Homo sapiens: one gene and its partner. The protein of the gene in region 1 interacts with the protein of each later gene in a pairwise test. Each region holds a gene or a part of one and is shown on either strand. Other genes may lie near its edges.

Region 1 (5,445 bases):
TATTGTAAGTAATCTAGAGATGATTTAAAGTATACAGAAGAATGTGCATAAGTTATATGCAAATATTATGCCACTTTATGTAAGGGACATAAGCAGCTGTGGATGTTGGTATCCGAGGGATGGGGAGTGAGGGGCATTGTCCTGGAACCTACCCCAAGGAACGACTGTACCTGTTTTCTCACTTCCCCGCATCCCAGCACTAAGATGGGATCCAGAGAAGGTGGCAGTGGTGAAAGGATCTCAGACACAGAAAAAGGGTTATGTGATCTGGCCCGGGAGTGATTTCCAGGAAATGGATCTCTGACTCCCTGCTCTCCCAGGGGACAGCTGACAAAAATATAAGTGCTCTACTGGTTAAATGTTAGGAAAATCAGGGCAGGAGTGGCTGCTTATTTTCGCATCTGCTGTTCATGCGTGGTCCTGGTGGCAGGTCATGTTTTGGCAGATGATAGCTGCTCAGGACTGTCCCAAGATTAAAAATCTCATAGTGTGTGTACACAGTGGGGAAGGCTATAAGCAAAGGGGTCTCTTCCCCCAGGTGGTCTAAAGGAAGTCAGAGCCAGACTCCCTCCCCTCCCAGGAAATTCCTGTCCTGTTGGGATGGTCATTTCTACCCCAAAGGCCAGGCTAGGGCAGGGTCTGGAACTGGCTGCCTCCAGGAACCAAGCAGGCAACGTAAATCAGTGAAGGGCTGATGGGTACTTGCGGAAACAGGAAAGCACGTACAGCCCCATTTGCGAGGTAGGCTGTGACTCAGCCGGGTGAGTGTTGCCATGCACTATTCCAGCTCTTGCCTTGCCAAATGTTTATATTTTTTTCAATCCAAGTAAGAAGTGACGCATTTTGTGTTTCCAGATTTTTAAATATTGGCACTAATTCAGATTTTAAAAACAAAAGGCTGGGCATAGTGGCTCAGGCCTGTAATCCCAACACTTTGGGGGACCGAAGCGGGCAAATTGCTTGAGCCCAGGAGTTCAAGACCAGCCTGGGCAACATGCTGAAACCCTGTCTCTACAAAAAATACAAAAATTAACCAGGTGTGGCGGCATGCACCTATGTCCCAGCTACTTGGGAAGCTGAGGTGGGAGGATGGCTTCAGCCCAGGAGTTGGAGATTGCAGTGAGCCAAGATCGCGCCACTGTACTCCAGCTTTGGCAACAGAGTGAGACTCTGTCTCAAAATAATAATAATAATAAAACAGGACTGTGAGAGGCACATTTGGGACTTCTGGTCCTTGTTTCATCCAGGAAGGTGGGTGTTCTTAGGATACTAGAGCTTTACTTTACAAGGAGAAAAGTGGAAGCCCAGGTAGAATGTGTTGCTTCTGGCAATATTATTGAGCTAGCCTCCATGCTAGGGGTTAGAGGCTTCACAGCAAATGAGAAGCCCCTGTTCCTGCCATCTTGGAACTCCTAAGGAGGTAGACAGACAAGTAAAGAGGCAACCACAAGAGTGGTGAATACTCAACAGGAGTAGGACATGGAGCAGGGGCTAGGGGGAGCACAAATCAAAGCAGGCTTCCTGTAAGAGGAGCTCCCTGATCTGAGACTTGAAAATTATTAGGAGTTGGCCAAGCAAGGAGCAGGGAGAGGAGGGGTATTCCAGATAGAAGGAATAACACATGCAAAAGAGACAGGAGGGAATCACATGCAAGGACGTGGAAGTAGCTCATTGTGGCTGGAGTTGAAAGTAGCAGCTGAAAGGACGTAAGGCAAGAAATGAAGCTGGAGAGGTAGACTAGGGTTGCAAACAAATATCTATTGGGACTTGGCACCAGTGAGTACAATGGTCTGGGTGTAACAGCCAATAGAGGATGGTGGACTGGGTCACCCTGGAGTCTGCTGCTACTCAATTGTAGCTACTCTGCTATAGCCTAGGGTTGCCAAAGCTTCCTGTTTTTTGGGAGCAGTGGGAAATTCGATTATTAAATCCAGTACCTTGAGCTTTGTGTTTAAGCTGCTAATCTGAACGTTTACAGTACTCCACAAGGTCAAATAAAATCTATTTCCATCTGGCCCTGGGCCCACCAGTTCCAATCTCTGGTGGAATCGTGAAGGCCCTGTGAGCCTCTTTAAGGAGAGTACATTCCCAAGGCAGGGAAGCCACTGGCGGGCTTTCAGCCAGGGCATGACATCCCAAGTGTGTACACAAAGGGCCTGGTGGCTGCTGTCTGGAGAGCAGCAGGACGGCAGGAGGGGAGGCAGCAGTGTGTTTGGAGGGTGTTATGGCACCTGGAGAGGGCCAGGGAGATGATGGGGACCTGCACAACACGGGATGTGGGAGAGATGGGATTTGATGACAGACAAGAAGGGATAGTGGGGGCGGGGCCAAGGATGACACAGGGGTCAAGGCAGCAGGTGCAGAGGGAGGAGAAGGAGCAGTGATGGATGAGTATGTCCTCGGCGTGCCTGTGGTCACTCAGGGAGGTGCCCAGCGGATCTGATCCTGGGAAGCCTGGAGTCACATCGCTCAGGCACAGGACCCTCAGTTTCCTGTGCCACCAGCGGGCATTCCTTTATCATGTGTACCCATCACATGTGAGTTCAGTGGGGTGAATAGGACACACCTTTACCCCTCAGAACTGCAGTCAGGACAAGTGGCGAGTTCAAGCAAGAGGCTGGCCCGGTGCTGTCCCGGAGCTGTCCCGGAGGGCAGGGTCCTGGGTGGGAGGGGCAGTGACCGTATTGCCTGGGAGCCAGGGGAGGCGTGTCCCACAGGAACCGAGGGTGACAAGGAGGTTGGGCAGGGGCTCCAGTTGGAGTGGACTGCCTCAGCGAAGCCTGGAGGTGTGACAGAGCCAGTGGTTAGTGAGTAAAGGGAAGGAACCCAGAAAGGCAGACTGCTCCTTCCCCACATTTCGTCAGGAAGGGAATAAAACATTTCTTAAGAGGTCATCATTCCTTTCACTTTCTCGGGGCACCTTGCTCAGAGGTCCTGCTGATTCTCCCTGGGACAATGAGAAGGTGTTTAGTAAATAAGTGCTCATGGTGCCTCTCCACCCCCCATTCCCTCCTCCCTCTGGAGCAGTGCCCTGTTGAGTGTCTAAGTTCTGCTACAGTTTGTGTGAGAGTCTTTATAAATTTCCTACTGGTCTTACTTCATTGTGGCCAAGATTAAAAGTTGACAGTGAGGCTGGAGATGAGTGGAATACAGTAGAGTTCAAATATCGACAGGGGATTAGGGGTGGAGTTCGGGGAGGCATTCTAAGTGCCCTGCTGCCTTTCTGTTTGAATATTAAGTTCCAACCCGCTTGCTGTTGCGGATGTCTGTGCCTCCTTTCAAGGGGGCATCAGCTGCATCCTTATCCTTCCCCACCCTCTGCACTCTGCAGGGTGTTCTGAGAATCAGCCATGTCATCCCTGTACCCATCTCTAGAGGACCTAAAAGTGGACCAAGCCATTCAGGTAAGTCGCCAGGCCCCATTGGCCTGGATTCCCTGAAGGGGACCTTGGGGATTACCCTGGAAGGTGCTGGGTACTGGGGCCACTTGGAGATTCCCGTAGGCCTCAGGGCATGTAGGTGTCCACTGCAGGGCCTGCTGGGCAGAGAAGACATCCAGGGGGCAATGCCAATGGCGTTACAGCAAGAATAGAAAAGACCAAGCAGCGCACGCATGCCTCTCTCATGCCTGCTCTGTCCTGCCCAGGCCCAGCTCTCCCTCCCTCCAGGATGGGCGGGCTCCATGCTCTAAGGCAGGCTTTCAGAGGAAACAAGACTAGTGGGCATAGGCATTGGTCTGCTTAGCCCCCAGAAGCCCCCTTCCTCCTCCATCCCAGCACTCTGTGGTTCCAGTGGGTTTTGAGAAATGGAGACTTTTCAGCTGAGAACTTGATTGGGAGATGGGCCTTGATGTTCTGCCTGTTGCAGGCAGTAAATGGGTTGTGACATAGGGTGGGTCACAGTCCCCCAGAACTTCCTCCCAGGAAAAGACACATCTGCGGAGGCCACGTTTACGTGATCTTGAGCCCTGAGGGTTGGTGCACACTCCCCCCACACCCCGGGCCCACTCACACCCCTAATGCCCAGACCCTGGCCTCATGGAGCTCCAGGCTCTGGGGTTCCTGGGGTCCTGGCCACAGCTGACCAGTGCTCCCTGCTCCTCCCCAGGCCCAGGTCAGAGCCTCACCCAAGATGCCAGCCCTGCCAGTCCAGGCAACAGCCATTTCCCCACCACCAGGTGAGTGGGCTGGGATGAGGGGCTCCTGGGTGCCAAGTCCTTTCAGGGAAGAGATCATCAGGGAAGCTTGGCAATGCCAAAGGTATGGGAGGCTCCAGGGTTAAGGACTCAACATGGTGGGAAGAGAGGACCAGGCTTCCAGTTGCCACCCACCTCTTACTGCCTGGGTGACCTGGGCTGAGTCACCTCACCTCCCAGAGCCTGTGCCCATGCTGTTCCCCTCCCTCCTTGACTGCCTGGTGAACCCCTGTTTATCCTTCCAAACCCAGCTCAAGTTAGGGAAGCTATGGCTTCTCTGATGCCCCCAGCAAGGCTGCCTTGAGGATGTGATATCATTTGTGGGGCCTCTGTCTATATAAACGATTTGAGTCACCTCAAATCAGCATTTCAGCACCATTCTGGTGATCCAATCTCATGTGACCCCGGGAATGAAATACCACACTTGTCAGACTTCCTTGCTGGAACTATGGCTGGCCTGGGGTGGGGGCAGGTGGGGAAGAAGTGGACGGCAGATAGCGGCTCAAAGAGAGAAGGGGCCAGAACCCCACTTGCCTTATTCAGCTTAGGCTTCCATAACAAAATACCATAGGCTGGATGACTTCAACAGCAGAAATGTATATTCCCACAGCTCTGGAGGCTGGAAGCCCAAGATCAAGGTTCTGGCCAATTCAGTTTCTGGTGAGGCCTCCCTTCCTGGCTTGCAGATGGCCACCCTCTGGCTGAGTCCTTACATGGCCTTTCCTCAGTGTACTTGCTTAAAAGAGAGAGAGAAAACGAGAACACGAGAGAGATACAGCATGAGAGCGCATGCATGAGCCCTCTGTTGTCTCTTCTTATAAGGACACAAATCCTTATAAGAAGGGATTAGGACCCTGCCAGTCCTGGTGGGAACCATTCGCTGAGGGATGCAGAGGTTTCTGGGTGTCAAATAAAGTCAGTGGAGTTGAATAGCAAAGTGGTGCATGAGGACTCGGTGTCCTACCCTGCACCTGGGCCCTCTGAGGAGCGCTCATCAGTGAGTGTTCCTGGGGATACCCCACAGTCTTGGAAATAAATACCATTCCCAGGCTCCATTTCTTAATAAAAATGAGCAGCCACAGGGGAGCCAGGCAGGCATAGGGAAGCACATGTCCTCTAATGACACATTTATTCTTCCTTCTTTCCCTATCAGTTTTGTACCCAAACTTGGCAGAACTGGAAAATTATATGGGTCTTTCCCTCTCCAGCCAAGAAGTCCAGGAGAGCCTGCTTCAGATTCCAGAGGGTGA
Region 2 (4,472 bases), on another chromosome or scaffold:
GAGAAAACAAAAAAAAAGCTAACAACTCCTTTAGAAGAAAGTAGATTTTAAACTGTATATACTTTCCAGGTAAGATTTGAAAAGAAAAAGAAAACCTATGCCAACAAAAAACCTTTGGTCGATATTTCTCTTCTGGGCCCTTGAAGTTACCTTTTTGACCCTTTGGTTCATGTAGTCAAATTTATCATTTAACAACATGTGATTAATAATATAATAAACTATTTCATATTGAGGAATGAGGGGTATGAAGAGAGTGAATTAATTCACTTTGCAGTTATTGAATTATAATTCAGTGATATTATCTATTACAGGTCTATTTTTATAGATCTGAGAACAAAAGGACTCACAAAGCTTAGTTCCTAGTTTTTCTCTTGTAACTGATTTGCTGCATAAGCTCAAGTCATTTGCCTAATCTCTGTTTGCCAGTGTCTTACGTTGTAAAATGTAAAACAGGCCATAAAAACTAGCTTCCAAGGTTATTGTAAAGTTTTGATAATTTAATAGTTAAAGTCATTACTGCCTCACATTTCTATGACCATTATCACTACCTATGGTAAGTTGAGGCACTTATGAATAAACAAATCTTGTATAGACTTTAAATGGTTGCTAGCATCCTCTAGAATACCTTCACAGGTACATTGTTTGGCTTCTCTGTTAATTTACGGAAGATATTATGTTTTGTAGTGGTTGTCTAAACTTTTTTAGAATTGACTTATTGGATCCTTAATCTTGGCATACTCCAGCCGTCCAGATCGCCTTAGGGACATTGCTGATCGCTTTAATGTAGACCATGATGCAGTACTGGACAACGTACTTTATGCACGTGCATATACTAGTAAGAGCCCCATGCAGTTGGATGCTTGGGTCAATGTAAGGTTGGCAGCACTGATTTACTACTTGAGGGATACAACATTTTGATACTTTTTTTCTATTTTATTTTTCTCTAAATTAATTTACTCAGTCTATAAATTTTATCATCTGGTAAGTCCTTAGATAATAAAGTGCCCTCAAATTATTTATTATTCTTTGTCTTTGAAATTAAGAGTAACATTCTTTTTGGATAATGTAGCATTTGGTATACATGCTAAGGCAGAATATGCAATAATTTTTTTTTTTTTTTGAGATGGAGTCTCGCTCTGTCACTCAGGCTGGAGTGCAGTGGTATGATCTCGGCTCACTGCAACCTCCAACTCCTGGCTTCAAGTGATTCTCCTACCTCAGCCTCCCAAGTCGCTGGGATTACAGGCACACGCCACCACACCCAGCTAATTTTTGTATTTTTTAGTAGAGTCAGGGTTTCACCATGTTGGCAAGGCTGGTCTTGAACTCCTGACCCCAAGTGATCCACCTGCCTCGGCCTCCCAAAGTGTTGGGATTATAGGCATGAGCCACCATGCCCTGCTGCAATAATATTTAATAAAGTCATCAATAATTAAGAAAATCCTTCAAGGAATTTATTTTGCCTGGCTCCCAAGAATATGAATGATCTTAGCCTCTGCTTCTTTCAACTTTTATAACATTTTCTCACTGCATTTCCCATCAGGTGAACATCAGATGGAGCTACTTGATTATGTAGCAGCAAAGTTCCATGAAGAAGCTGGCATCTTCAAGCTATTGGTACAAGCTTTTAAATATTGCTTTCACAGAGCTATTTAGCATAATATTTTTCTTCTATTGATCTCTATTCAAATAACGTCTTCCTTCAATTTCCAAATGCATGTTTATTTTTACATTAATCCTGTGTAGATTATCGATTCAATAATGGCACTTTTTCGAGTGGATTTCAGTGGCCGTGGGGAGTTGGCCGAACGGCAGCAAAAATTGGCCCAGATGTTGTCACGACTCCAAAAAATCTCAGAAGGTATATCTTTAAAATAAAATGGCATCTGTGACTATGTTTGTCAAGTATACTTTGCAGAGAAGCTTGGAATATAATGTCAGGAGGCAGCGATTTTTTTTTAAATAAAATTACCTTTATGAGAATACAACTCTTTGTTTTTTTTTTGTTTTTTGAGATGGTATCTCGCTCTGTTGCCCAGGCTGGAGTGCAGTGGTGCGATCTCGGCTCACTGCAACCTCCGCCTCCCAGGTTCAAGCAATTCTTCCTCCTTAGCCTCCTGAGTAGCTGGAATTACAGGCACCTGCCATCACACCAGGCCAATTTTTTGTATATTTAGTAGAGACGGGGTTTCACCATGTTGGCCAGGCTGGTCTCGAGCTCCTGACCTCGTGATCTGTCCGCCTCAGCCTCCCAAAGTGCTGGGATTACAGGCATGAGCCGCTGAGCCCGGCTTTACAACTCTTTTTAAACCAAAAATATTTATTCTAACCTTAATAATAATAATAACAAATAATTTCTGTTGTCAATGAAAAATAGGAATATGATGTTATTTATAAAATAAATTCATGATGCAATATGTCTAAACTCTGAAATCTAAACAATGAACTTTTAAATATCTATATTGCCTTTCTCATAGTTTTAAAATTTTATCTCTTGATGCAGAATATAACGTGGCTGTTTTTGTGACCAATCAAATGACTGCCGATCCAGGAGCAACTATGACGTAAGCCCCAATATTCTACTTTTTATTTCACAGAGGTTAATATAAAGAGGGTTAGAGCGTAGAATAGAAAATAATTTCAAGGCCGGGCACGGTGGCTCACGCCTGTAATTCCAGCACTTTAGCAGGCTGAGGCAGGCGGATCACGAGGTCAGGAGATGGAGACCAGCCTGACTAACATAGTGAAACCCCGTCTCTACTAAAAATACAGAGATTAGCCGGGTGTGGTGGCGCACACCTGTAATCTCAGCTACTCCGGAGGCTGAGGCAGAAGAATCACTTGAACCTGGGAGGTGGAGGTTGTAGTAAGCCGAGATCGCGCCATTGTACTCCTGTCTGGGAAACAGAGCAAGATTCTATCTCAAAAAGAAAAAAGAAAAAAGAAAAGAATTTAAAAATCATTAGTCTTTATGTGGGCACAAATATATCACAAATCACTTTATTACTGGGCGCAGTGGCTCATGCCTGTAATCCCAACACTTTGGGAGGCCTAGATGGTTGGATCACCTGAGGTCAGGAGTTCAAGACCAGCCTGGCCAACATGATGAAGCCTCGTCTCTACTAAAAATACAAAAAATTAGCTGGGCGTGGTGGCGTGCACCTGTAATCCCAGCTATTCGGGAGGCTGAGGTGGGAGAATCACTTGAACCTGGGAGGCGGAGGTTGCAGTGAGCCAAGATCATGCCATTGCACTCCAGCTTGTGCAACAAGAGCAAAACTGCATCTCAAAAAAAAAATCACTTTATTGCACAGTGTATATGACTTCATAATTGTAAATATCACTTGGTAACCAGAATCTATTTTTCTCTAGTTCTTTATAGAATAAAGCAATACTTTAACCATTTTCAGCAGTACTTTGGGCTTCTCTTTGGTCTAGGGCTAAAGGGGTATGGGAGGACAATAAGAAATAGATCCTAGGGAAATAAAAACTTATATTGCAGCTTATCAGTATAATAAACACCATTCATAAAAACAAAAAAGTCATCTTTCTACAGGATATACATGAGATATATTTATCAGAGGCACTATGGGAGAAGTCTCCTGTTTGAAGAAAAAGAATTTCAGTTCACACTAGGCATATTCAGAATTTGTTGAAGTGTTTGTGCACATAACTATTGATGACTCTGAAAGACGGCAGTGAATAGAAACACACAGAGAGCTAAAGTAGGATAATAAAAATAGATAAATCAAACAAAGGTTTGTTGCCACCGTAACAAATTTTGAGCATTATGTGTCTGAATAAGCAATCAAAATAATCCTAAATACACACCACTGCACTCCAGCCTGGGAGACAGAGCAAGACTGTCTCAAACAAAGCAAAACAAATCTAAATTCATGATAATGCTTTTTTAAAGTGTGTGTGTGTTTTTTTTTTTTAAGAGACAAGGTTTCACTCTGTCACCCAAGCTGCAATGCAGTGGCACCATCTCTGCTCACTGCAACCTCTGCCTCTCAGGCTCAGGTGATGCTCCAGCCTCAGCCTCCCGAGCAGCTGGGAGGCACACATCGCCACGCCTGGCTAATTTTTTTATTTTTAGAAGAGACAGGGTTTTGCCATGTTGGCCAGGCTGGTCTCGAACTCCTGGCCTCAAGCGATCCTCCCACCTCAGCATCCCAAAGTGCTAGGATTACATGTGTGAGCCCCCTTGCCTAGCCAAAAAGCTTTTAAAAAAATCTTTTAAAGGCTGGGTGCAGTGGGCAGTGGCTCACTGTAATCTCAGCACTTTGGGAGGCCGAGGTGGGAGGATCACCTGAGGTCAGGAGTTCAAGACCAGCCTGGACAACATGGCAAAACCCTGTCTTTACTAAAAATAAAAAAACTAGCCAGGCATGGTGGTGTGCACCTGTAGTCCTAGCTTCTTGGGAGGCTAAGACAGGAGGATCACTTGAACCTGGGAGGCAGAGGTTGAA

The links. Proteins that work in one complex are often made in the same cells at the same time.
Region 2: the proteins of SDCBP2 (region 1) and DMC1 interact in binary tests that used the Homo sapiens proteins (3 or more experiments, as listed by UniProt).

Annotation. Positions count from the first base shown.
Region 1 is NC_000020.11:1,318,322-1,323,766, reverse strand, and holds part of SDCBP2 (syntenin-2), read left to right. Parts: intron 1-2,566; exon of another isoform or gene 2,567-3,331; 5' UTR 3,332-3,350; coding exon 3,351-3,404; intron 3,405-4,107; coding exon 4,108-4,177; intron 4,178-5,348; coding exon 5,349-5,445.
Region 2 is NC_000022.11:38,535,684-38,540,155, reverse strand, and holds part of DMC1 (meiotic recombination protein DMC1/LIM15 homolog), read left to right. Parts: intron 1-743; coding exon 744-835; intron 836-1,543; coding exon 1,544-1,617; intron 1,618-1,746; coding exon 1,747-1,861; intron 1,862-2,503; coding exon 2,504-2,564; intron 2,565-4,472. UniProt on the Homo sapiens protein: Participates in meiotic recombination, specifically in homologous strand assimilation, which is required for the resolution of meiotic double-strand breaks.